3 separate regions of the Homo sapiens genome follow, and regions 1 and 2 are each linked to region 3. Evidence: fine-mapped expression QTL. A gene starts in region 3. Each other region holds a variant in brackets. All regions are shown on one strand. Distances are between the middles of the regions.

Evidence for each region.
Region 1: its variant is fine-mapped to the expression of ZNF8-DT in minor salivary gland (GTEx, PIP 0.96).
Region 2: its variant is fine-mapped to the expression of ZNF8-DT in transverse colon (GTEx, PIP 0.97).

The regions. Positions count from the first base shown.
Region 1 is chr19:58,331,677-58,339,838 of GRCh38, forward strand. It overlaps ZSCAN22 (zinc finger and SCAN domain containing 22), which reads left to right. Exons shown (of 3, transcript NM_181846.3): 2 at 3,076-3,529; 3 at 6,578-8,162. The coding sequence starts at 3,127. The coding sequence ends at 7,650. It overlaps MIR6806 (microRNA 6806), which reads left to right and starts at 3,012; the gene lies at 3,012-3,075. RefSeq lists an enhancer at 6,835-7,336. The variant T/C (reference allele first, on the strand shown) is at 4,194.
Region 2 is chr19:58,179,280-58,187,457 of GRCh38, forward strand. It overlaps ZNF274 (zinc finger protein 274), which reads left to right and starts at 3,782. Exons shown (of 8, transcript NM_133502.3): 1 at 3,782-4,163; 2 at 4,642-4,719; 3 at 6,433-6,559; 4 at 7,668-7,763. The coding sequence starts at 4,687. RefSeq lists enhancers at 3,393-4,106, 3,775-4,194, 4,107-4,818, 4,445-4,634. The variant C/T (reference allele first, on the strand shown) is at 3,606.
Region 3 is chr19:58,273,992-58,282,169 of GRCh38, forward strand. ZNF8-DT (ZNF8 divergent transcript) reads right to left here and starts at 4,751. Exons shown (of 3, transcript NR_187495.1): 1 at 4,532-4,751. ZNF8 (zinc finger protein 8) reads left to right here and starts at 4,964. Exons shown (of 4, transcript NM_021089.3): 1 at 4,964-5,156. The coding sequence starts at 5,091. ZNF8-ERVK3-1 (ZNF8-ERVK3-1 readthrough (NMD candidate)) reads left to right here and starts at 4,975. Exons shown (of 7, transcript NR_144447.1): 1 at 4,975-6,618. It also overlaps a transcript of ZNF544 not described here. RefSeq lists enhancers at 5,040-5,089, 5,510-5,559.

The DNA.
Region 1 (8,162 bases), 58 kb after region 3:
TGGGACTACAGGCACACGCCACCACGCCCAGCTAATTTTTTTGTATTTTTAATAGAGACGGGGTTTAATCATGTTGGCCAGGATGGTCTCGATCTCTTGACCTTGTGATCGGCCCAGCTTGGCCTCCCAAAGTGTTGGGATTACAGGCATGAGCCACCGTGCCTGGCCAACATTATTTTTTTAAAAGCTGTATTTTTATTTTATTTTATTTTTTGAGATGGAGTTTCACTCTTGTTGCCCAGGCTGGAGTGCAATGGCAGAATCTCGGCTTACTGCAGCCTCCACCTTCCAGGTTAAAGGGTTTCTTCTGCCTCAGCCTCCCAAGTAGCTGGGATTACAGGCATGCACCACCACGCCCGGCTGATTTTGTATTTTTAGTATAGATGGGGTTTCTCCATATTGGTCAGGCTGGTCTTGAACTCCTGACCTCGTGATCTACTCGCCTCGGTCTCCCAGAGTGCTGGGATTACAGGCGTGAGCCACCGCGCCTGGCCTCCAGAACATTTTTATCATCCCCAAAAGAAATTCCCAAACCTATTAGCAACCACTCTCATTTTTGTCTCTCTTCAGCCTCTGACAAACACTAATATGCTTTTTTTTTTTTTTTTTTTTTTTGAGATGGAGTCTACCTCTGTCGCCAAGGCTGTAGTGCAGTGGTGTACTCTCGGCTCACTGCAACCTCTGCCTCCCAAGTTCAAGAGATTCTCCTGCCTCAGCCTCCTGAGTAGTTGGGATTACAGGTGCCTGCCACCACACCCAGCTAATTTTTGTATTTTTTAGTAGAGACGGGGTTTCACTGTGTTGGCCAGGCTGGTCTTGAACTCCTGACCTCAGGTGATCTACCCACCTCGGCCTCCCAAAGTGCTGGGATCACAGGTGTGAGCCACCGTGCCCTGCCGTGTCTTTCTTCTTTTACTTAGCATCATGTTTTCAAGGTTCATCCATGTTGTAGCATTAATCAGTACTTCATTTCTGTTTATGGTGAATAGTGTTCCATTATAGGTATATACAGCATTTTATCCATTCATCAGGTGGACATTTGGATTGTTTCTCCTTTTTTGCTGTTATGAGTAATGCTGTTATGCACATTTATGTATAAAGTTTTGTGAGGACATATACTCATTTCTCTTGGGTCTATACGTAGGAGTAGAATTGCTAGGTCATGGGGTAACTCTGTTTAAGCTTTTGAGGAACTCCCAGACTGTACTTCCCACAGTGGCTATCCCATCTTACATTCCCAGCAGCAGCATATGAGGATTACAGTTTCTCCATATCCTTGCCTACACATGTTATCTGATTATAGGCATCCCAGCAGGTGTGAAGTGCTATCTCATTGTGGTTTTCATTTGCAGTTCCCTGGTAGCTAGTGATGTTAAGCATCTTTTCATGTATTTATTGCCCATTTGTGTATCTTCCTTGGAGAAATGTCTAGTCACATTCTTTGCTCATTTTAAAATTGTATTATTCATCTTTTTACTATGGAGTTGTTCTAGATACAGGTCCCTTATCAAATATATGATTTGCAAATATTTTCTCCCACTCTGTGGGCTGCTTTTTTACTTTCTTGATGTGGTCCTTCAAATCACAAAAGCTTTTAATTTTGATAAAGTCCAGTTTATTTATTTTTTCTTTTGTTACTTATGCTTTTGGTGTCATAGCTAAGACAGCTTTGCATTATTTTCAAGTATTCATGGAACATTAACCAAAATTAACCATACACTGGGTCACAAACCAAGTTTCAGCAAATTTTAAATGATCGAAATCCATTGTAGCATGTTTTCTGACCACAACAGACTTAATCTAGACATCAGTAATAAAAAGACAACTAGAAAACCCCCAGTTGTTTGGCAATGAAGCAGGAGAGTTTTAAATAAATAACCAATGGGACTGGGCATGGTGACTCATGCTTGTAATCCCAGCACTCTGTGGGGCCGAGGCAGGCAGATCGCTTGAGGTCAGGAGTTCGAGACCAGCCCCGCCAACATGGCAAAACCCCGTCTCCACTAAAAATACAAAAATTAGCCTCACATGGTGGTGCACACCTGTAGTTCCAGCTACTTGGGAGGCTGAGGCAGGAGGATTGCTTGAACCCGGGAGGCGGAGTTGCAGTGAGCCGAGATAGCGTCACTGCCCTCCAGCCTGGGCGACAGAGGGAGACTCCGTCTCAAAAAAATAAAATAAATTTTAAAAAATAATTAATGAGTAAGGTAGAAATTGTAACAGAAATTAGAAAATATTTTTAACTAAATGATAATGAAGATACAACATATCAAACTTGTGATGTATAGCTAAAGCTGTGTTTAGAGAGAAATTTATAGCCTTAAATATGTGCATTAGAAAAGAGGAAAGGCGAAAGTCAATTATGTATCAATCTCAAACACTACAAAATAATTAGCAAGTAAAGTGAGAGAATGACCATGTGGCTACCTGGGGAACAGAGGGAGAAAGACTTGGCTCTGTTGGGGAGGAGCACGCCTTAAACAGGCTGGCTGTAGGTTTGCGTGGGTTTGTAGCTTAGCTCTCTGTTAACCCTTCACTAGCTGAGGGACTTTGGGCAAATATTTTCCTCCTGAGTGTCTGTTTTTCCATCCATAAAATAGGTAGAAAGTCCCACCTCCTGAGTTTGTTGTAAGTTTTTTGTTTGTTTGTTTTTGTTTTGAGACAGAGTCTTGTTCTGTTGCGCAGGCTGGAGTGCAGTGGCGTAGTCTCGGCTCACTGCAAGCTCCGCCTCCCGGGTTCACGCCATTCTCCTGCCTCAGCCTCCTGAGTAGCTGGGACCACAGGTGCCCGCCACCACGTCTGGCTAATTTGTTTTGTATTTTTAGTAGAGACGGGGTTTCACCATGTTAGCCAGGATGGTGTTTGTTGTAAGTTTTAAATGAGTCTACATGCAAGCAGTAGTAGCTTAGAACAGTGCTCAGCACCAAGTGGGTGCTGTCCTAATTATGAGGATTGTCTATGTCTTTGTGAGAGTCTTTCACATCTCACGGGCCACAAGCCTGTGTTTTCCCTGCTCTGTAGGCATGAGGCAGGGCCCAGGTTCCATGTGATGCTGAAGCTCTGACATTCCTGCAGGCCCAGTTCCAAGGCTCCGGCATCCTGTGTCTCACTGAGCACTGCTGCCCGATGGCCATCCCCAAGCACTCCCTGAGCCCAGTGCCGTGGGAAGAGGACAGCTTCCTTCAAGTGAAGGTGGAGGAGGAAGAGGAAGCCAGCCTCTCCCAGGGCGGAGAATCCAGCCATGACCACATTGCTCACTCTGAGGCTGCACGCCTGCGCTTCCGGCACTTCCGCTATGAGGAGGCATCTGGTCCACACGAGGCCCTGGCCCACCTCCGAGCGCTGTGCTGTCAGTGGCTGCAGCCCGAGGCGCACTCCAAGGAGCAGATACTGGAGCTGCTGGTGCTGGAGCAGTTCCTGGGTGCGCTGCCCCCAGAGATCCAAGCCTGGGTGGGAGCCCAGAGTCCCAAGAGCGGAGAGGAAGCCGCTGTGCTGGTGGAGGATCTGACTCAGGTGCTGGACAAGAGAGGTAAAGGGGCGCCGTGGGCAGCTTCACGGCACACCAGAGATACACCCTGGACAGGAACATGGGAGCACAGGGCTCTGGTTTGGGGTTGCTCATGCACCCATTCTCACATTTGTACTTTACCGTAACTCTCACACACTGTTGTAGACAGGTGTGTTTTGGTTGCAGGTGACCAAAAGCGAGCTGAAATGGGCTGAAGCAAAGAAGGGTAAGGAGGCAGCAGATACGGCTATATCCAGAAGATCTGTTGACAGCATCAGAACTCTCTTCTTCCTCTCTTGTTCTGTTTCTCAGTTGGTTTTTTCTGTGTTAGCTTCATTCTTATTTTAGGTTCTCTTTCCAAAGGGGTTAAAGATAGCCAGGAACCCCAGGCTTATGTCTTACCAATGTAGAAACCCCGGGGTAATAACAATAAGAGGTCCCTGGTCTGAGCCCCCACTGGCCTGGTTGGGATCTTATGTTTGTGTTTGGCCAACCAAATCCCAGGGACTAACAGTGAGCAACTGGCTGTTTCTCAGAGGAAACCAGACGAGGGCCTGGGTGCCTGGGGTGGCTGTTGGGGGTGACGGAAATACCAGATGTCCCTGTGTACCTTCTCTATGCCCACCCTGGGCTGGCCTCCAGGATTTGGGTGGGTCAGACCTGCCCCAGGCTCAGCTGGGCACTG[T/C]TACTCACAGAGACCCACACAAACATCCCAACCCAGGGAGGTCCAGTGGGATGCAGGGAAGACCCAGCCTTGGGACAATCCAGAGCAGGGAGTGGTGGCTCGTCTCAGATGGGCTTGGCCTGGCCTATTGGCAACAGATAGGAGGTGGGCATACCACACACTGGGAGGAAACGTGCAGTGTGCAGGAGGAATGTGGAGTCTGGATACAGCTGCATCATCAAGGCTCAGTAGATCCAACCGCTGCTGCTCTTCCTGGCCATGTGACTCCCTTGTGCCTCAGTTTACTCATGGGTAAAATGGGGATTGTAATAAAAACGCCCACCTTAGTGGTGTTGCGAGATACAAGGCAATACCCGTGCAGCACCTGAAATGGTGCCTGGCACAGATTAAATAAATGGTAACTGCAACTGTTAGGATAATTTGTTCAGCTCTGGGAGAAACAGGCCTCTCTGGAACAGAGGTTGGTCTATGCCCAAGCAGATGTCACAGAGACAGGGAGAGGAAGGAGGGAGTGGCCCCATCCTCCCACAGGGTTGGCCAAAGCTCAGAGAAAGGGTAAAATGCAGAGGGAATGGTGGGGTCAAAGGCCTGGCAGTGTGATTTGCACTGGTGTATTCTGGTAAAAGCAGGTGGTGTGATGTTTCTGGATAGAGGAAGGAAGGGGGAGACAGGGCCAAGCAGATGGCTGGGGGAGCAGGGGAGACTGCCTGTGGACCTGGAGGAGAACATTCTGGAGCTGAAATCCCAACTGGGCCACTAGCTAACTGTGATCCTGTACCAGTTACTCAACACCTTCCCTCAGCTGGATTTCAGTTTCCCCATCTGCAACAGAATCACAGCAGTACCTCCTTCTGAGAGCAGGTCGAAGCTGAAATGAGGCGATGGAAGTCACCCACTGTGCTTGGGGCCCAGCACGACAAGAGCCTGATAGTGGTTAGTGGCCCTGGAAGGCCAGCGGCACAGCATCCATGGCTTACAGATGGGGAGACTGAGTCCCAGATGAGGGCAGGACTGATTAAGGTGGTAGACCTGGGGTTTGAGTCCAGTTTCTGCACTGCTGAGCCCCACTGTGGACTTGAGCAGTGGGTATTCCACCTGTCTCTGCCTCCTCCCTGGAATCCATCCAGTAGATGTGCCAGATTATGTGTCCTTTGCACCCATGCAGGGCAGGTCAGTGCGAGCATTCCTCTACCTCATGCACACTCTGATCTCCAAGAGCACCTCCGCCACACTCTGCCTTCATAGTACTTTACAATGTAGGGGCTTGAGAGGCCAGATGGGTACCTCATGTACTCACCCCCAGCAGCCATATTCTACCTGGGGTTCTACTTGCAGAAATTTTCACCATCGTGGGCTTCTGGATGGATTCCCTCATTCAGCCAGAATTCACTGAGCACCTGTGGACACATCCAGGCCTAGAGGCAAGGTGTTGAGTGTGAGGGACAGAACCGCAACCTCACAGAGATCAGAGCCTGCAGGGGACACATCCAGGCCTAGACGCAAGGCGTTGAGTGTGAGGGACAGAACTCCAACCCCACAGAGATCAGAGCCTGCAGGGGACACATCCAGGCCTAGACGCAAGGTGTCGAGTGTGAGGGACAGAACTCCAACCCCACAGAGATCAGAGCCTGCAGGGGACACATCCAGGCCTAGACGCAAGGTGTCGAGTGTGAGGGACAGAACTCCAACCCCACAGAGATCAGAGCCTGCAGGGGACACATCCAGGCCTAGACGCAAGGTGTCGAGTGTGAGGGACAGAACTCCAACCCCACAGAGATCAGAGCCTGCAGGGGACACATCCAGGCCTAGACGCAAGGTGTCGAGTGTGAGGGACAGAACTCCAACCCCACAGAGATCAGAGCCTGCAGGGGACACATCCAGGCCTAGACGCAAGGTGTCGAGTGTGAGGGACAGAACTCCAACCCCACAGAGATCAGAGCCTGCAGGGGACACATCCAGGCCTAGACGCAAGGTGTTGAGTGTGAGGGACAGAACTGCAACCCCACAGAGATCAGAGCCTGCAGGGGTGCATGTGCTCAGGGTCCTGACAAGGACAGACCCTCCCTCTCTCTCTGTCTCCAGATCAGTTCCACATCAGGGTTTCTCCTCTTGACTCTTGAGCCAAAATTGGGAGCCTTGAAAGATGGCGAGTTTGGTGGGAGGAGGAGAAATCAGAACCCATGGTGTAGTTTTGGATGGTGTGGGAGGACAGCCCTGCACCCTTTGTCATCCAAGACACCAAATGAGAAACTTCCCCTTGGAACTGGGGCCAGATGTTAGGAACGGGCCACATCTCCCCTTACAAAGTGTGACCGGGGCCCTCGGCAGAGTAGGGGAGGCTTGGTGTGGTAGGAGGAGTGACAGTGTGGTTCGGACTGTTTCAGGATGGGATCCAGGAGCCGAGCCCACAGAGGCAAGCTGCAAGCAGAGTGACCTGGGAGAGTCAGAGCCATCAAATGTCACTGAGACCCTCATGGGAGGTGTTTCCCTTGGACCCGCCTTTGTCAAGGCATGTGAACCTGAGGGCAGCTCAGAGAGGTCTGGACTATCAGGGGAGATCTGGACAAAGTCTGTCACCCAACAGATCCACTTCAAGAAAACTTCAGGGCCTTACAAGGATGTCCCCACAGACCAGCGTGGCCGTGAATCTGGTGCCTCGAGGAACAGTTCTAGTGCGTGGCCAAACCTCACCTCCCAAGAGAAGCCTCCTTCAGAAGACAAATTTGATCTGGTGGATGCTTATGGGACAGAGCCTCCATACACCTACTCAGGGAAGAGGTCCTCCAAGTGTCGCGAGTGTAGGAAGATGTTCCAGAGTGCTTCGGCGCTCGAGGCACACCAGAAGACCCATTCTCGGAAGACCCCATATGCCTGCAGCGAGTGTGGGAAAGCCTTCAGCCGGAGCACTCACCTCGCCCAGCACCAGGTTGTCCACACAGGGGCGAAGCCCCATGAGTGTAAGGAATGTGGGAAGGCCTTCAGCCGAGTCACCCACCTGACTCAGCACCAAAGGATTCATACTGGAGAGAAACCCTACAAATGTGGGGAATGTGGTAAAACCTTCAGCCGCAGCACTCACCTCACCCAGCACCAGCGGGTGCACACGGGGGAGCGGCCCTACGAGTGTGACGCGTGTGGGAAAGCCTTCAGCCAGAGCACGCACCTGACTCAACACCAGCGCATCCACACCGGGGAGAAGCCCTACAAGTGTGACGCGTGTGGCCGAGCCTTCAGCGACTGCTCAGCCCTGATCCGACATCTGAGAATCCACTCTGGAGAGAAGCCATATCAGTGTAAGGTTTGTCCGAAGGCCTTTGCACAGAGCTCCTCCCTCATTGAGCACCAGAGGATCCACACGGGAGAGAAGCCTTATAAGTGCAGCGACTGTGGGAAGGCCTTCAGTCGTAGCTCAGCCCTGATGGTTCACTTGCGGATCCACATCACGGTGCTGCAATGACCGGAAGTCGCCCCTGGGGGCGTAGCACAGCGTCTTCTCGGAGGCTCGAGGTCTAAGAGAAACGCTGAGTTCCTGAAGAGCCACAGACAGGGTGGGTGATTGATGAGTTGTCAAAATGATAGGTGCCTGAGGGCAGACTCGGGCTGTCTAGGAACCACTCTGCATTTGAGGAACCCTGATGAGCACAAGGTGATTCAGGCCAGCTGGAGAAGCTTCCAGAAGGGCCCTGCACTGCTACCCTCTATTTCCCACTCAGGGCTGTCCCAGAGAGAAGGCAGCCGAACTGAGGATTTAGACTGGTTCTGAGGGCCAGGGCAAATGAAGGCGCATGTCTCTCAGAACTCAGCGTCCCAAGACGCTCTGGGCGGGCCAACTGTAGCTTGTTCTCATGTGGTTCTTCTTGCCTGCTTTTCTGCTGCTTAGCCCAGAACGGACACCTGCCATGCCCACCTCTGTGCCTTGGCACCTACTATTTCCACTCCAGACTATTTTGTGCCTAACTGCAAGGCTGA
Region 2 (8,178 bases), 95 kb before region 3:
AGTGCTGGGATTACAGGCGTGAGCCACTGCGCCCGGCCATATGTTGTTTAATTTAAACCAACAGTAGACCATTGATTTAAAAAAGCATATGGGGCCAGGGGCAGTGGCTCACTCCTGTAATCCCAGCACTTTGGGAGGCCAAAATGGGCAGATCACCTGAGGTCAGAAGTTCGAAACTAGCCTGACCAACATGGTGAAACCCTGTCTCTACTAAAAATATAAAAATTAGCTGGGCGTCGTGGCATCTGCCTGTAATCTCAGCTATTAGGGAGAATGACGCAGGAGAACCGCTAGAACCCGGGAGGCAGAGGCGGAGGTTGCAGTGCCATTGCACTCCAGCCTGGGCAACAAGAGCAAAACTCCATCTCAAAAAAAAAAAGCACATGGAAAAATATTAATATATTTAAATAACTCAGTATCTCAATAAACCTATGCCTGACTATGTGGAATATATATATATTTGAGATGGAGCCCCCTTTAGTAGAGACGGGGTTTCACCATGTTGGCCAGGTTGGTCTCGAACTCCTGACCTCAGGTGATCCACCCACCTCAGCCTCCCAAAGTGCTGGGATTACAGGTGTGAGCCACCGCACCTGGCCCTATGCAGACTATATTAAGAGAGAAAAAGTAAAAATTAAACTTTGCAATTGAATGAAATAACTACTATTTCTACAACACACATTTTCACTTATGATCCATAATGCCTTCTATGTAATTCAAAATTCCAGATATTTTCTAACAGAAAATTTCTCCCTGTTATGAGTCTGCAAAATTTATATGAACAAGGCTATTTATATTTTGTCTCTCTTCCACCTAGTGTAAATCTTCTTGTATTTTGCTACAGATATACTCATGTGTTTGATGGCAGGTGCTACCCCACACCTCTTAGGGATTTACACACTGTATGGTGTAAATACATTACCATCCTACTAAAATCCAAATGATCATGAATTCCAAAATACATCTGGCTCAGAAGGTTTTGAACAAGCAATCGAGGCACTGTCTAAATCCAACAACGATGAATAAATTTTTTCAACATTTTACATGTTTAATAGTTAACATTTCTTCAGAAGTCATTTTTATTTTACAAATTACAATAAACAGCATATTTAATTTGCTAAACAGGAAAAGAGTATGCAGTTATTAAAAGTTGAATTAAAATGGCTCTCATAAATCAATCTTCAATAATATGCTTATATAAAACCATCTTTAGGTTGGGCACAGTGGCTCAAGCCTGTAATCCCAGCACTTTGCGGGGCCGAGGTGGGCGGATCCTCTGAGGTCAGGAGTTCGAGACCAGCCTGGCCAACATGGCAAATCCCCATCTCTACTAAAAATACAAAAATTAGCCGGGCATGGTGGCACGCCCGGCTACTCAGGAGGCTGAGGCAGGGAGAATCACTTGAACCCGGGAGGCAGAGGTTGCAGTTGAGCCGAAATCACGCCATTGCACTCCAGCCTGAGCGAAAGAGCGAGACTCTGTCTCAAAACAAAAAAAAAAAAACAAAACATCTTTGGTCAGGCATGGTGGCTCACGCCTGCAATCCCAGCACTTTGGGAGGCCAAGGCGGGAGGATTGCTTGAGTCCAGGAGTTCAAGACCAGCCCTGACAACACACTGAGACCTCATCTCTACACAAATATTTATTAAAAATTAGCCAGGTGTGGTGATGCACACCAGTAGTCAGTCCTAGCTACTTGGAAAGCTGAGATGGGAGGAACACTTGAGCCCAGGAGGTTGGGCCAGCAGTAAGCCATGACTGCAGCACTGCTCTCCAGCCTGGGCAACAGAACAAGACCCTGTCTCAAAAACAAATTCTTTTAATCAAAAATCAGGTTTTATCCTATACCACATAAATAGAAAGAAATCATTAGAAGAATTTCCACCTGCCTGGGCAACATAGTGAGGTTTCTGTCTCTACAAAAAAGTACAAAAGAGGCCAGGCGGGGTGGCTCATGCCTATAATCTCAGCACTTTGGGAGGCTGAGGTGGGCAGACTGCCTGAGGTCAGGAGTTCGAGACCAGGCTGGCTAACATGGAGAAACCCCGTCTCTACTACAAATACAAAAATTAGCCAGGCATGGTGGCACACACCTGTAGTCCAAGCTACTTGGGCAGCTGAGGCAGGAAAATCGCTTGAACCCAGGAAGCAGAGGTTGCAGTGAGCCGAGATTGTGCCACCTCACTCCAGCCTGGGCGACAGAGCAAGACTCTGTCTCCAAAAAAAAAAAAGCCAGGTGTGGTGGTGTGCACCTGTCCCAGCTATTTGAGAGGCTAAGGTGGGCGGATCACTTGGGCCCAGGAGGTGGAGGCTGCAGTAAGCTGTGATCGCACCAATGCATTCCAGTCGGGGTGACAGAGCAAGACCCTGTCTCAAGAAAAAAAAAAAGAAAGAAAAAAAAGAATTTCCAAGGGGGTTTGCTTCCTTGTGATTATGAAGGGCTAGACGTATCCTATTCAAATCCAGAACAAAACAAGACTATTAGTAAACATGACTACTTAACATAGCTCTGTCATACTAGCTAGGACTATACAATGTTAATTTTTTAAAGTTGAAATATGGAAAAAGAAGATATCAAATTACTTATTAATTGGGGATGGTGTTGTATCTATAATAGACACGAAAAATCCAATGAAATATTATTAGACTATAAGATATCTGCACAGTCTCTGAGTAAATACTCCTATGCCAAAATCAACACACTAACAGCAACAATTAAACAATGTGTAGCCTGAGGTTGGATCCTCCACAGTGACCAAAAAAACCAACAACCCGTGGAACAAGTTTAGCAGGCAGTGTACACGACCACCAGAGGGAGGCAGAGGGCTGCTGAGACCTGCCAGGAAATATCAAGAAAGAGGACACAGGGTCCTGAGCACTGAGAGAGATCATTAGGGCCCTCAGGTCCCAAGAAGACAAGACCATACTGGGACCTGGGACCTAAGGAAGATAAGAAAACACCAGATGTCGGTCCTTGAGGAAGCCAAGAGAATACCTCCTTGTCCTGAGCTCCCAAGGAAGATGAGAGCACCCTGGGCCCAAGGATGGGTGGCACACACCAGGTCCTGGACAGCTACAGACTTAGGTTTCCTCTCCCTAGACATGAGCACCTCAGCTTCCAGGAGCAAACTGGACCACAGGGGGACACTAGGCAGAGGATCCTGCTCCTCCTCCCCAATGCCTGGGGTACAGTTAGCCCTGATCATCTCTCCAGAACTAGGGTAGACGTTTGGCCTCATTCCCATCACACTTGTGGTCCACCTAGTCTTCCCTCCTTCCCCTTGCACACCCCTGACCTTCCTACTCCCTTCCTCTAATCCCCAGAACTAGGGTGGACGTTTGGCCACGTTCCCATCACACTTCCGGTCCTCCGAGTTTCCCTCCCCTCCCTGACCTTGAGTGGACACTTGGCCCTGTCCACCCTCACTTTCAGGCAGGACCCATCTCCCAGAAACATAAGTGCCGTCAGTCCCAACTCCTGCACACTTCCGGCTCTCCCAGTCCTCCCCTTCTTTCTCGACTTTGAAACTGGTGGAACTTCAGTACCTCTCCCCACTCCCCCCGCGACTTCCGTCTTCCAGTCCCCCTCCTTCCCCAAAAGTTG[C/T]GTGGACTCTAGCCCCGCCTCCTACATTCTCCCCGCCCTCCCTGTCCCCGCCCCTCCACCCAGATGGACGGCCAGTTAGGCCCGCCCCCTGCACTTCCGGCCCTACCCGCCCTTCCTCTTCCCAAGGGACGTCATAATTAATCCCGCCCCCACCGCCACCCAACCAAGCATCACCCATTCCAGCACTTCCGGCCTGACCCCTGTCCAGCGCCTTTCCTTTCTCCAGCTTCTGCTCTGCCCCAAGAGTGGTCGCCTTCGTGGCAGGGCACGACTCTCTCCCAGCTCGGGTCGCCGCCCACATTAGTGTGGGGCCCTGCGGCCTAGCGTCCCTCACCAGAGGCCTCCCCTTGCCTAGCTGGACCGCCGAGGGACATCGACGAGTATCCTCCTCCTGCTGTCCCCGGCTTCGCCTGCCGCCCCTAACCGGCCAGTCAAGATGGCCGCCGCTGGGTGAGGCAAGCTGGCGCGCCGCGGGGGCGTCTGGGAGTTGTAGTTCGGGACGGCGGGCTGACGCACTTCGCCGCCGGCCGACGGGCGCCATTGTGCGGCGCGCGCCGGGTGAGTGCCGCGCGAAACCTGCGTCCGTCGGGGGCTGCGCTGGGCGGGTCCAGAACCGTTAGTTGGGGGCGAGCGCGGCCTCTGCATTTTCCGCCGAGCTCGGGTACCCTGAGCCGGCCGTGCCTGCAGTCCTCCCGCCGCTCTGTGGGATGGGGTCGGTGACCCGGAACCCCGAGGGGAGACAGTGCTTTCGGGGCGCCGCGGTGGAGAGAACAGATCGCCTCCGGAAGCGTGGGGTCTGGGCCAGGGAGGCGATCCCCTCCGATGCGCGGGACAGAGGAGGCTCGGTGTCCTCTCGGGGAGGGGAAAACTGGTCCTATCCAGTCCTGTGGGAGTCCTATGACTCACTCTGGGCGTTTTCCAGTTTGGGTGGACTTGTCATTTCCCGCTGAGGGAGCCGTTCCTGGGCGGAGGCTGCGGTAGCTCCCCAGCGGACACCTTAAGCCTCTCCCTCCCCTCCCAACTTCGGTTTCCTCAGGACTCTGCCCACTTCCACCAGAGACACATTGAGAAGGAGGAAACTATGGCCTCCAGGCTTCCGACGGCCTGGTCCTGTGTGAGTAGAGGCTTCCTTCAGCTTTTGAGTCCGCTACTGCACCTGGGAGGATGCGGATGGTGGTGAGATACCACCTTCCCTGAGATACCCCCATCCTCCAGAGCACCTCGGGGAGGGGGTAGAGATTGGTTGGGCATGAGAGATCCTGCGTGATGGTGGAACCGCAGGTTGCTTGGTTTTCCAAGGGTGTAGTTAGAATAGAGACCAGATTGTAGGGGCTTCTGAAGGCCAGGTTAAGGCTCTTGCTTGTATCCTTTATATTGGGAAGAGTAATTGACAGGTCTTTTGTTTGTTTGTTTTTTGTTTTTTGAGATGGAGTCTCCCTCTGTCGCCCAGGCTGGAGTGCAGTGGCGCGATCTTGGCTCACTGCAACCTCCGCCTCCTGGGTTCAAGTGATTCTCCTGCCTCAGCCTCCCCGAGTAGCTGGGACTACAGGCGTGTGCCACCATACCCAGCTAATTTTTTTTTTATTTTTATTTTTTGTGTGTGTTTTTTGTGGAGACGGGGTTTCACCATGTTGGCCAGGCTGGTCTGGAACTCTTGACCTAAGGTGATCCGACCATCTCGGCCTCCCAAAGGTCTATGCAGGGATCAGGCTTATGTTTAGATTTCAGCAGATAAATTGGCATCAAGCAAGAGGTGACAGCAGCAGAGTTCAATAACAAGTAGAAAAGACAGGTGAGGATGGATCCCTGACAGGTGAAGGAGATAGAAAGAAGCATCAGGGCCCTGGGTAGGGGCTGACGGCTTGGGTGTGATGGTGCAGCTCAGAGAATTCCCTAGGAGGCATACGCACCACTCCCAAAGTCAGAATTTTCAAATGAATAAGAAATAGGGGGCCGGGCGCGGTGGCTCACGTCTGTAATCCCAGCACTTTGGGAGGCCGAGGCAGGTGGATCACGAGGTCAGGAGATTGAGACCATCCTGGCTAACATAGTGAAACCCCGTCTCTACTTAAAAAAATACAAAAAATTAGCCGGGCGTGGTGGCGGGCGCCTGTAGTCCCAGCTACTCGGGAGGCTGAGGCAGGAGAATGGCGTGAACCGGGGAGGCGGAGCTTGCAGTGAGCCGAGATGGCGCCACTGCACTCCAGCCTGGGCGACAGAGAGAGACTCCGTCTCAAAAAAAAAAGAAAAGAAAAATAGGGCCGGGTGCGGTGGCTCACATGTGTAATCCCAGCACTTTGGGAGGCCGAGGCAGGCAGATCACAAGGTCAGGAGTTCGAGACCAGCTTGACCAACATGGTGAAACCCCATCTCTACTAAAAATACAAAAATTAGCCGGGCATGGTGGTATGCGCCTGTAATCCCAGCTACTCAGGAGGCTGAGGCAGGAGAATCGCTTGAACCTGGGAGGTGGAGGCTGCAGTGAGCCAAGATTGCGCCACTGCACTCCACTAGGAGACAGAGTGAGACTCTGTCTCAAAACAATAAATAAATAAATTAAATAAATAAATAAATAAATAAAATGGACAGATTTTCATATGCTACAGAGATCTCATGTGTTGCTCTCCTTATTGTAACCTGAATAGAGTCAAGCTTGGGTTTGCTTGGGGTTTCAGACAAAGACAGGAACTCAGGATGAGACTCCCAAAATGCCCTTGGGTCATCTTGTAGACCATTCTGTGCTTTCACTGGCCTGGTCAGCCTCCCCTGTCTTTCTTTTGTCGTGGATGCGGATGGCCTGTGGCTGAACAAGAATCTGGATTTTTAGGAACCAGTGACCTTTGAAGATGTAACACTGGGTTTTACCCCGGAAGAGTGGGGACTGCTGGACCTCAAACAGAAGTCCCTGTACAGGGAAGTGATGCTGGAGAACTACAGGAACCTGGTCTCAGTGGGTAAGGCTGGCCTCCAGGTCAAGAAGGATCTGTGCTTTGTAGCACAAATGTAGCACCTCTGAAGTATGTGTCTGCTTGGGCTCACACTGCAGGGGCACCAGTAGGAAAAGGGCAGCTTTTCAGTATGACTTCTGAATCATTGCCTAGTCCATCCCTCCCTGAATACCAGGGAGATGGGTCTGTCAGGGATGTTTTCAGCTGCAGTAGTGGATGCTTATTGTTCTTGCAACAAGAGTTCCGGCCAGGCATGGTGGCTCACTTTAGGAGACTGAAGCAGGAGGATTGCTTGAGCCCAGGAGTTTGAGACCAGCATGGGCAACATAGACCGTGTCTCTATTAAAAAAAAAAAAAAAAAGAAACTCCACAGAAATTCCAGACAATGCGATGCCAGTGTCCCAACAGCTTAGGAGTAGCATCAAAGAGCCTGTCCCTGCCAGGCACGGTAGCTTACGCCTGTAATCCTGGCACTTTGGGAGGCTGAGGCAGGCAGATCAGTTGAGGTCAGGAGTTCTAGACCAACCTGACCAACATGATGAAACCCTGTCTTTACTAAAAATACAAAAATTAGCCGAGCACCCCAGCTACTCAGGAGGCTGAGCCAGGAGAACTGCTTGAACATGGGAGGTGGAGGAGATTGCAGTGAGCTGAGATCAGATCACAGCACTCCAGCTTGGGCAACTGAGCAAGACTCCGTCTCAAAAAAAAAAAAAAAAAGCCTGTCCCTTCAAACTCTGGTTATTGTGAACCTTTCCATGTTCCCCCTAGTCATTGCACAGCTGTGGCTCCAAGCATTGCATCTGTGTTCAAGGCAGAAACAAGGAGAAGGGGTAGCCCTTTCACAGCTGTCATGTTTAACCAGAAAGCAAAAGCTTTCCCAGCTGACCGATCTCCCTTTGTGTCTGGCTGACCAGAACTGGACCCCTTAGCTGCTTGGCAAAGGAGTCTAGGAAAGCCAACAACAGGGATGGATGGAGTTGTGTTCACTGCTCTAGGCCAGAAGTCATGTGCCTTAGCAGGGGAGAAGCTGGAGACGGCTTGTGCTGCAGTAGGATAGCATTTTCTCCTGAACACAGACCCCCACAAGCCCTGTCTCTTTTCCTTTGAGCAGAACATCAGCTTTCCAAACCAGATGTGGTATCTCAGTTAGAGGAGGCAGAAGATTTCTGGCCAGTGGAGAGAGGAATTCCTCAAGACACCATTCCAGGTGAGAACCAGACATGGGAAGCCCCCACAGGGAAGGGGCCAACTGATGAGTCAGGGACCAGTATCTTGGAAAAGCAGTAGACATTGGGATACCCCAGGTGGGATGCTGTGATGAGCAGTTGCAGAACCAAACTCGAAGTTTTTCTCTGGCTCCACAGTCAGCAGTGTCCTACTTGGTTGAAAGTGAACCTGTTGCTGGTGGCAGGTGATACTTGTGTTGACAGTAGGGGCTCCCTTAGTCTGTTACACGCATTGTCTACTGCCCTCCCCTCATAATCACTGGTAACCCTGGTGTGTATTTCCAGCCAGACTTTCTTATATAGGCTTACGTGAATGTATGTGAATATATATACACATTTTGGGGGTGTTATAATACAGACAAGTCAGCTTCTTTTTGTTTTGGAGACAGGGTCTCT
Region 3 (8,178 bases):
CCCCATGTTGGCCAGGATGGTCTCGAACTCTTGATCTCATGGTCTGCCCACCTCCGCCTCCCAAAGTGCTGGGATTACAAGTGTGAGCCACCGTGCCCGGCTCCTAAACAGTTTTTGTTTATGTAGGTCCTATCAATATTTGGTGTATTAGGAATTAAAACGGAAAAAAATTAATATATTTTATTAATATAATTTTTCAAAATCTATTCTATGTTAATATATAGGTTGAGCTGTGTCTCTTCCCAAAATTGATATGTTGAAGTTCTAACCCATAGTACCTCAGACCTTATTTGGAGACAGTGTCTTTAAAGAGCTGAAATGAGGTCATTAGAGTGAGCCCTGGTCCATTATGACTGTTGTCCTTATAAAAACAGAAATTTGGAGACAGACAACTTGTCACGCATACAGGGAAAATGACATTTGAAGACAAAGTCAGACATCTACAAGCCAAGGAATGCCAGAGATTGCCAGCAAACCACCAAAAACTAAGGAAAGGGATGGAACATATACTTTCTTGTAGCCCTCAGAAGGAACCAACTATGCCAACACTTTGATCTCAGACTTCTGGCTTCCACAACTGTAACAATAAATTTATGTCGTTTAAGCCACCCCATTTGTGGTATGTTGTTACCAGAGCCCTCATGACTAATACAACATATTTTTTAAAAAGCACCTACTTTACGAAAAACAGCATTTTCCAAAACAGAAATAGGGAGAAGAGTGGCATTGTATTATATTTTTTCAAATCTCCTTAATGTCTGGCTTCACTTAAGGCAGTTGAGTTCCCATAGCTCCATGTTCCCATTGCATCTGTTACAATATGACTCATCCAGCAGCCTCTGGAAAACTCTATTGTATATTCCTATGAAAATGAGAGAGGAATAGCACTGGGTAGTCCAGGAGAATGGAAAAACCCAAACGACAACTAAAACAAGCAGTAGGCAAAGAAACCACAGAATAACAAAACCCAAAATAAGGGAGAGAAGACAGCCAAAACCCTGGTCAGGGTGACAGGTCCATGACTCTTCCAGGCAAACCCAAATAAGGGAGAAAGGGGGTGGTAACTGGGGTGGGGCAGGGGGAGGGTGGTGCCTGAAATCCCCTCCTTTTCCAGATACCGAATGACTATTCCACCCATAATTAAACACCCATAAAATGAGAAATGCAAACAATGTTGGGTGTGACTCAGGAGCCAGGAGCCCCCCCACACTTGTCTCCCGTGTTTCCTTTCACTTTGCAATGAAAGCTTCTTGCCTTTCTGCTTACTCTGACTTATCCCTGAATTCTTTCCTGTGATGGCTTCAAGAACCTGGACACCAACTGGCACTGGCATCCGGTGACCTTCCTGAGCCCTCTGGCAACAAAAGAAAAAGCCAACATCTCATTATTATTATGAATTTAGTTTTGAACCCACCGATCCCTTGAAAGGATCTCAGGAACGCCCAGGGCTCCCTGACCCACACTTTAAGAACTACTGCAATAGACAAACTCCTACCTTATAATCAAGGAGATAAACAAGAACTAGAAAAGAAAAAAAAAATAGGCTGGGCACCGTTTTTGTAATTCCAGCACTTTGGGAGGCCAAGGCGGATGGACTGCTTGAAATCAGGAGCTCAAGACCATCCTAGGCAACATCACAAAACCCTGTCTCTACAAAAAATACAAAAATTAGCCAGGCATGGTAGCATGAGGCTGAGGTGGGAGAATCCCTTGAGCCCAAGAGGTTGAAGCTGCAGTGAGCTGTGATCACACCACTGCTCTCCAGAGTGGGCAACAGGTGAGACCCTGTCTCAAAAAAAAAAAAAAAAAAAGGAAAGAGGAAATAATAGGACATCAAAATCACAGATTCCACACCATTAGAACTAGGAGGAAAGCTGAGCCCAGTGACTGGCTCCAAAATGAATACACAGGGCCGGGTGCAGTGGCGCATTCCTGTAATCCCAGCACTTTCAGAGGCTGAGGCAGATAAGATTGCTTTGAGCTCTGGAGTTCAAGACCAGCCTGGGCAACATGGCAAAATCCAGTCTCTACAAAAATTGGCCCAGTGTGGTGGCTCTCACCTGTGCTCCCAGCTACTCAGGAGGCTAAGGATGCAGGATCACTTGAGCCTGGGAAGTGGAGGTTACAATGAGCCAAGATTGCAGCACTGCATTCCAGCTTGGACAACAGAGTGAGACCCTGTCTCAAAAAACAAATAAACAACAAAAAAAGAACACACAGGTTTCCCCTAAAGAGAATAGATCTTTGCACACCTGCCCCTACCTCTCCAACACTGGTGGCCACTGTGCAGGGGAAGGCAATAGATCCTCCTAGTACCTTCTCTGCCTACAGAGAAGGGGATGCTGCCTGGGAGCTTTTTGGGACTCCCAATAGAAGACAGATTTAGTCTCCTGGAAGGCTGCCTGATCCAGTTCCCACAGCAGCTGCCACTTGCTCAGGTGAGTGAAGACATCTGTCAAAAGTCAGAATTTTATTTTTATTTTATTTTATTTTTGAGATGGAGTCTCACTCTGTCGCCCAGGCTGGAGTGCAGTGGCGCAATCTCAGCTAATCGCAACCTCCGCCTCCCAGTTTCAAGCGATTCTCCTGCCTCAGCCTCCTGAGTATCTGGGATTACAGGTGCCCGCCACCACACCTGGCTAATTTTTGTATTTGTATTAGAGACAAGGTTTCACCATGTTGGCCAGGGTGGTCTCAAACTCCTGACCTCAGGTGATCCACCCACCTCAGCCTCCCAAAGTGCTGGGATTCACTCACAGGCGTGAGCCACCACACCCAGCCAAAAGACAGAATTTTAACAAATTTGGTTAAAGATCGAATTGGCTTTTATTTGTGATTCATGAATCTGGGCAGCCTCCACTCTGCAAAACGGAATGAGAGCTCCCACGGGGCAAATGGTAGAATAGTGGTTTTTGTAAGATAGAGAAAAGGCTAATTAGTTAACACTAGGTTACTTTTCTTGTAAGGATTAAAGCAGAGGGGACTTCCTTATTATGCTGCTCAGGTAGACTGGAAATCTGGTTTGTTTAGGGATCTACCTGCTTAAAGTATCAGTCTGATTATGTGGCATTTAGCCTAAGTGACTCTGTCTTGGTTTGGTCTGGTCTCATGAGGCCTAGAGCAGGAGCTCAGTCCAAAACCATGTCCTCTCATAATTTTGTGTAACTTGCCTAACACCTGCTCCTTCTCAGGAACGAGGCCCAGCAAAAAGCAGAGACGGTACAGGGCCAGAAGGATCTGAGAGAGTGTGGCCAGCTTGAGCCCTCAGGAGTCGGCCAGAAGGATCTGAGAGAGTGTGGCCAGCTTGAGCCCCTCGGGAGTCAGCTCCTCCGTCCCCACTGGTAACGTCTTCACCCCTTCAACACGGTGTGAAGGGCCATGTCATGGTTGATCTTCAGTCCCTCAGACTACACCATCAGCCCCATGGGGGTGAGCAAATAACAAGTAACTATACTGTTCCCTGCTATGTGTCTGGCTCTTGGTAAAATTTAAAAAAGTTAAAAATTGTTGTGGTTTGAATGCAACATTTTTGAATGGAAATCTGCTTCCCCATTTTTCTTTTTTAATAACTTTTTATTTTTTTTTTGAGACGGAGTCTTGCTCTGTCACCCAGGCTGGAGTGCAGTGGCCTGACCTCGGCTCACGGCAACCTCCGCCTCCCAGGTTCAAGCGATTCTCCTGCCTCAGCCTCCCGAGAAGCTGGGACTACAGGTGCCCGCCACCACGCCGGGCTAATTTTTGTATTTTTAGTAGAGACGGGGTTTCACCATATTGGCCAGGTTGGTCTCGAGCTCCTGACATCGTGATCCACCCGCCTCGACTTCCCAAAGTGCTGGGATTATAGGCGTTAGCCACCGCGCCCGACCTTTAATAAACATTTTAATGGACTACAACAGACCCACAGAAAAAGACACATCACAAAGTGAACACCCACAGGGAGAAGCAATAGGGCTGTCAGAGGCATTCGACCCAGAGCGACTCCATTTTGAGTGAGGGCTAGGAAAATGAGGCTGGGCTGCATTCCCAGAAAAGTAGGTATTCCTAACCTCTAGATGTTTACGGTTAAGGGAACAAATTAATAATGGGTACTAAAACAGACCCAGACTTGGGAGTGTCCAGATATCCCGGTATCTAGAGAACAAAGGCATTCCTAATTTTGCTTTAAAAATAATATCGATTCTTGAAAAATACAGTAAGAAAATTAATCCTTTTTCACAAACCCTTGTAGCAGAGCACATCTCCCCAAAATCTATTTTTAGCCCAAATATACACAAGCATTGTACCTAGGGTGCATACGTTCCTCTTACTTTCAGGAACGTCCTACTGTCTATGGGGTAGCTGTTTCACAACTTTACTTTCTCAACAAACTTGCTTTTACTTTGCACTGCGGACTCGCCCTGAATTTTTTCTTGCGCGAGATCCAAGAACCCTCCCTTGGGGTCTGAATCGGACCCCTTTCCTGTAACACAACCACCGCTCCCAGCCTCCCCGCTTCCAGCCGCTAAGCCCAAAGTCTTTTATATGAACAAACCTCTAACTCGTCCTGTGACTTTGATGCGTGTGCGTTTTAGGCACCGGGGAGCAGAGGGTAAAGCGGCGCAGCTCCGGGCCTCCTCCCGCGCAAGTTCCCGAGAAGAGCAGGTCCGGCCCGCGCAGACGTGCACGGTCCCCAGCCATTAGGAGGAGCAGACGGTCCCCACCCCCACAATCAGTCATCTCTCGGGGTCCGCCCTTGCTTCCTGCCCACGAGTGAGGCCTCTGGTTGCCCGCAACCTAAGGGGCATCGCAGCCCCGAGCAACACCGCCCCCACCAGCCTTAGCTGAGTGCTCCCATTGGCCAGAGGCCAGCGGGTGGGGGCTCCCATTGGCCATCGGCCATAATGCTTCCATTGGTCGAAGGCCAGACCAGCGGAGACTCCCATTGGCCGAGGGCTGTGGTTCGCCGCACGGCCTACTGGGAGTTGTAGTCGCCGCGTCGCCGGTGCGGCCGCCATTGTCCGGCGTTCGGCGAGTCGGGTGGTCCCTTTGGCTGGAGTGCCTCTCTGGTCTGGGGATCACCTCAGGCGCTGTCCTTCACTGGGCGATCCAGCATGGACCCCGAGGACGAAGGGGTAGCGGGAGTGATGTCTGTGGGGCCGCCGGCGGCCCGGCTTCAGGTAACAATAACAACAATAACGACGGCGGCGGGCTCCGGGCAAGCGTCTCCCGCGCAGACTGACCCTTTCACCTCGCGGCGCGATGAGAGCGGCACCGCTGTTAATGCCCTTGACACGTGGGGAAACTCAGACGCGGGTCGGGGCGTGGTGACCGTCCTGGCTGGTCAGAGAGGGGGCCGGGATTCCAACCAGGCGCCTGGCCCCCGAATGCGCATGCTCCACGCGGCTCTGTCCTCCCCAGGGCTGGGGTCGGTCATTCCCGAGAGAATCGAGCAGGCCCATCTCCTGCGTTCTGCTCCGCCCCGCCGACACCCTTGCCCATTCCAGGAAGGTCTGTCCTCGTGTTGACTGATAACAGTAATTGTAGCGTTGGCCGGGTGCCCAGATGGCAAGAATCATCGAATAGAGATGCTTTAACGCGTGGAGTCAGCGGACACCCACCGGGACCCCAGCACCGCGGAGCCCCTGCCCTGGGGCTTGGGCACAACCTCTTGGGGGCAATGATGGGTCACCACGCACTGAGTGTGATGAGAGTGACCACCAGGGTCGTCCCCTGCGAGACTGTGGGAGAACTGCAGTGCAGGGCGGTCAGTGTTTGCAGGGCCATCTGGCCATCAGAGCTCCACTTTCTAGACAAAGTGGTTGCGGCCTGTGTTCTCCATAAAGCTGCCTCGCGTGGCAGGAAACAACAATAATTATCCTTCCTCAAGCTCTGCAACTTTGAAATTATACTTTTTTTTATTTTTTGTCGTTGGTTTGTTCATGGGGATTTGCATTATTTCAGATTTGGTACACAAAGTGAGACTTGATAATCTTAGGTTGCAGGTTTTCAGATGTGTGTTGCTCCAAATTTGCATGAAATGCTACCACGTTTTATTTTGTTCTTGCTGTGGATGGGGGACAAGGAATGAGTCGTAAGAAAGGCTTGAGAGAAAGTGTATTAGTTACCTGTTGCTGTGTAACTCAAAACTTCGTGACCTGGAACAACAATAAATATCTCACGAGTTCTGACAGGAGTAATGGAATGTCCTAGCTGGTGGTTCTGGTTCAGGCCCATGAAGTTACAGTGAAGATGTCAGCATAGCTGTTGTCACCTGAGACCTGAGTCTGGAGGATCCACCTCCAGGATGGCTCACTCACATGTCTGTTGATAGGAGACCTCAGTTGTTCTCCATGTAGGCCTCTCTTTGGAACTGCTAGGGATCCTTGCAACATGGCATCTGGCTTCCCACAGAACAAGTGATCCAGGAGAGGGCAAGGTAGAAACTGTAACACCTTCCATGACCTGGATTCAGAATTCACACTCTTGTCACTTCCACGGTGTCTTACTGGTTACAAAGTCAACCTTGTTGAGTGTTGGAGGGGACCACACCAGGGCTGGAGGTCATTGGCAGAGGTGGTGGGGGAGCATCTTGGAGACTGTCCATCACAGGAGACAAGGACCAGAATGGAGAGCTTCAAGGTCCAGTGTTTTATCTGGTTATCTGTGTCTGCTGTAACAATTCACTACAAATTTTGTGGCTTAAAACATTTGTTCTTAGGTTCTGGAGGTCAGAAGTCTGAAATCGGTTTTCTGGTCTGGAATCAAGGTATGAGCAGAGCTACCCTCCCTACCAAGGTTCTAGGGTAGAATGTTTCCTCGTCTTTTCCAGCTGTGAGAGGTACAGACCTTCTATTCCTTGCCTCATGGCCCTTTGCCTGTCTTCAAAGCCTGCATTGTAGCATGTTGCTTCAGTGATCATATTGCCTTATGTCTTCTATAGTCATAGCTCCCTTTGTCTACCTCTTATAAAGACACTTGTGATTGCATTTAGGGCCCACCTGGATAATCCAGGATAATTTTTCTGTTTGAAAATCCTAATCACATCTGCACAGTTCCTTTTACCATATATAGTAATATTCACAGGTTCTAGGAACTAGGACCTGGATATCCTTGGAGGCCATTATATATCTCAGTCTACCATAGCCAGGCTGAGAGGAGCCATCCAGTATTCAGTGATGAGAAGGAGCCATTCACGTGTTTTAAGCAGGACTGGCATAGGGTTGAAAAAATCCACTTATGCATTAGGGGCTGGTGGGAAGGGAGATACTGGCAGCTCAACTAAGGCAGTGGGAAAAAGAGAGGAGTGGTTAGGCCCAGTGACCAGGTGTTGGCTGATGCTGGGGTGAAAAGAATATGTAAAGGAGAAACATCAGAGCACAGCCCCACCCCTTCAGGCTCCAGAAGTGCAAGACAAGAGGGAAGGCTGCAGGGATCTGATGTAGGGCAGAAAGAACATCATGAGACAACAAGGAGTGGGCTTCTGCTAGAATTCCAAGAAGGAAGCCAAGAGGAGGCATGAAGGACTTGTATGATGCCACTGAGAATTCTCATGGCTTGGACAGACCAGTACTCAGTGGACGTGGTGTCTAGGCTGTCACCAGTGACTCTTGCAGAATGGGTGATGATGGGAGGTGGGGGCAGGAGGCACGGGAAGCACAAATCAAAATTGGTGGGCATTCTGAGTGGAGGAAAGCGAAGACACAGAGACAGGAGCAGAGACCTCAGTTCCCAACCAAAGGCATCTTTCTGTATGTTTCCTATTAGAGCCACCTGCTACCTGTACTAAAATTTCTTTCTTATTTTTTAATCTACTCATGTTTTTCTTAAAAGGAAATGTCCTTTTAAAATTGAAGTATTTGGGGCCTGGTGCAGTGGCTCATGCCTGTAATCCCAGCACTTTGAGAGGCCACAGCAGATGGATCACTTCAGGTTAGGAGTTCAAGACCAGCCTGGCCAACGTGGTGCAACCCCATCTCTACTAAAAGTACAAAAATTAGCTGGGTTTGGTGGCACATGCCTGTAATCCCAGTTATTTGGGAAGCTGAGGTGGGAGAATCACATGAACCAGGGAGATGGAGGTCGCAGTGAACCGAGATTGCACCACTGCACTGCAGCCTGGTCAACAGAGTGAGGCCCTGTCTCAAAATAAAAAATAAAAAAATTGAAGTATTTAGTATATGTGGTTTTGTTTTGTTTTTT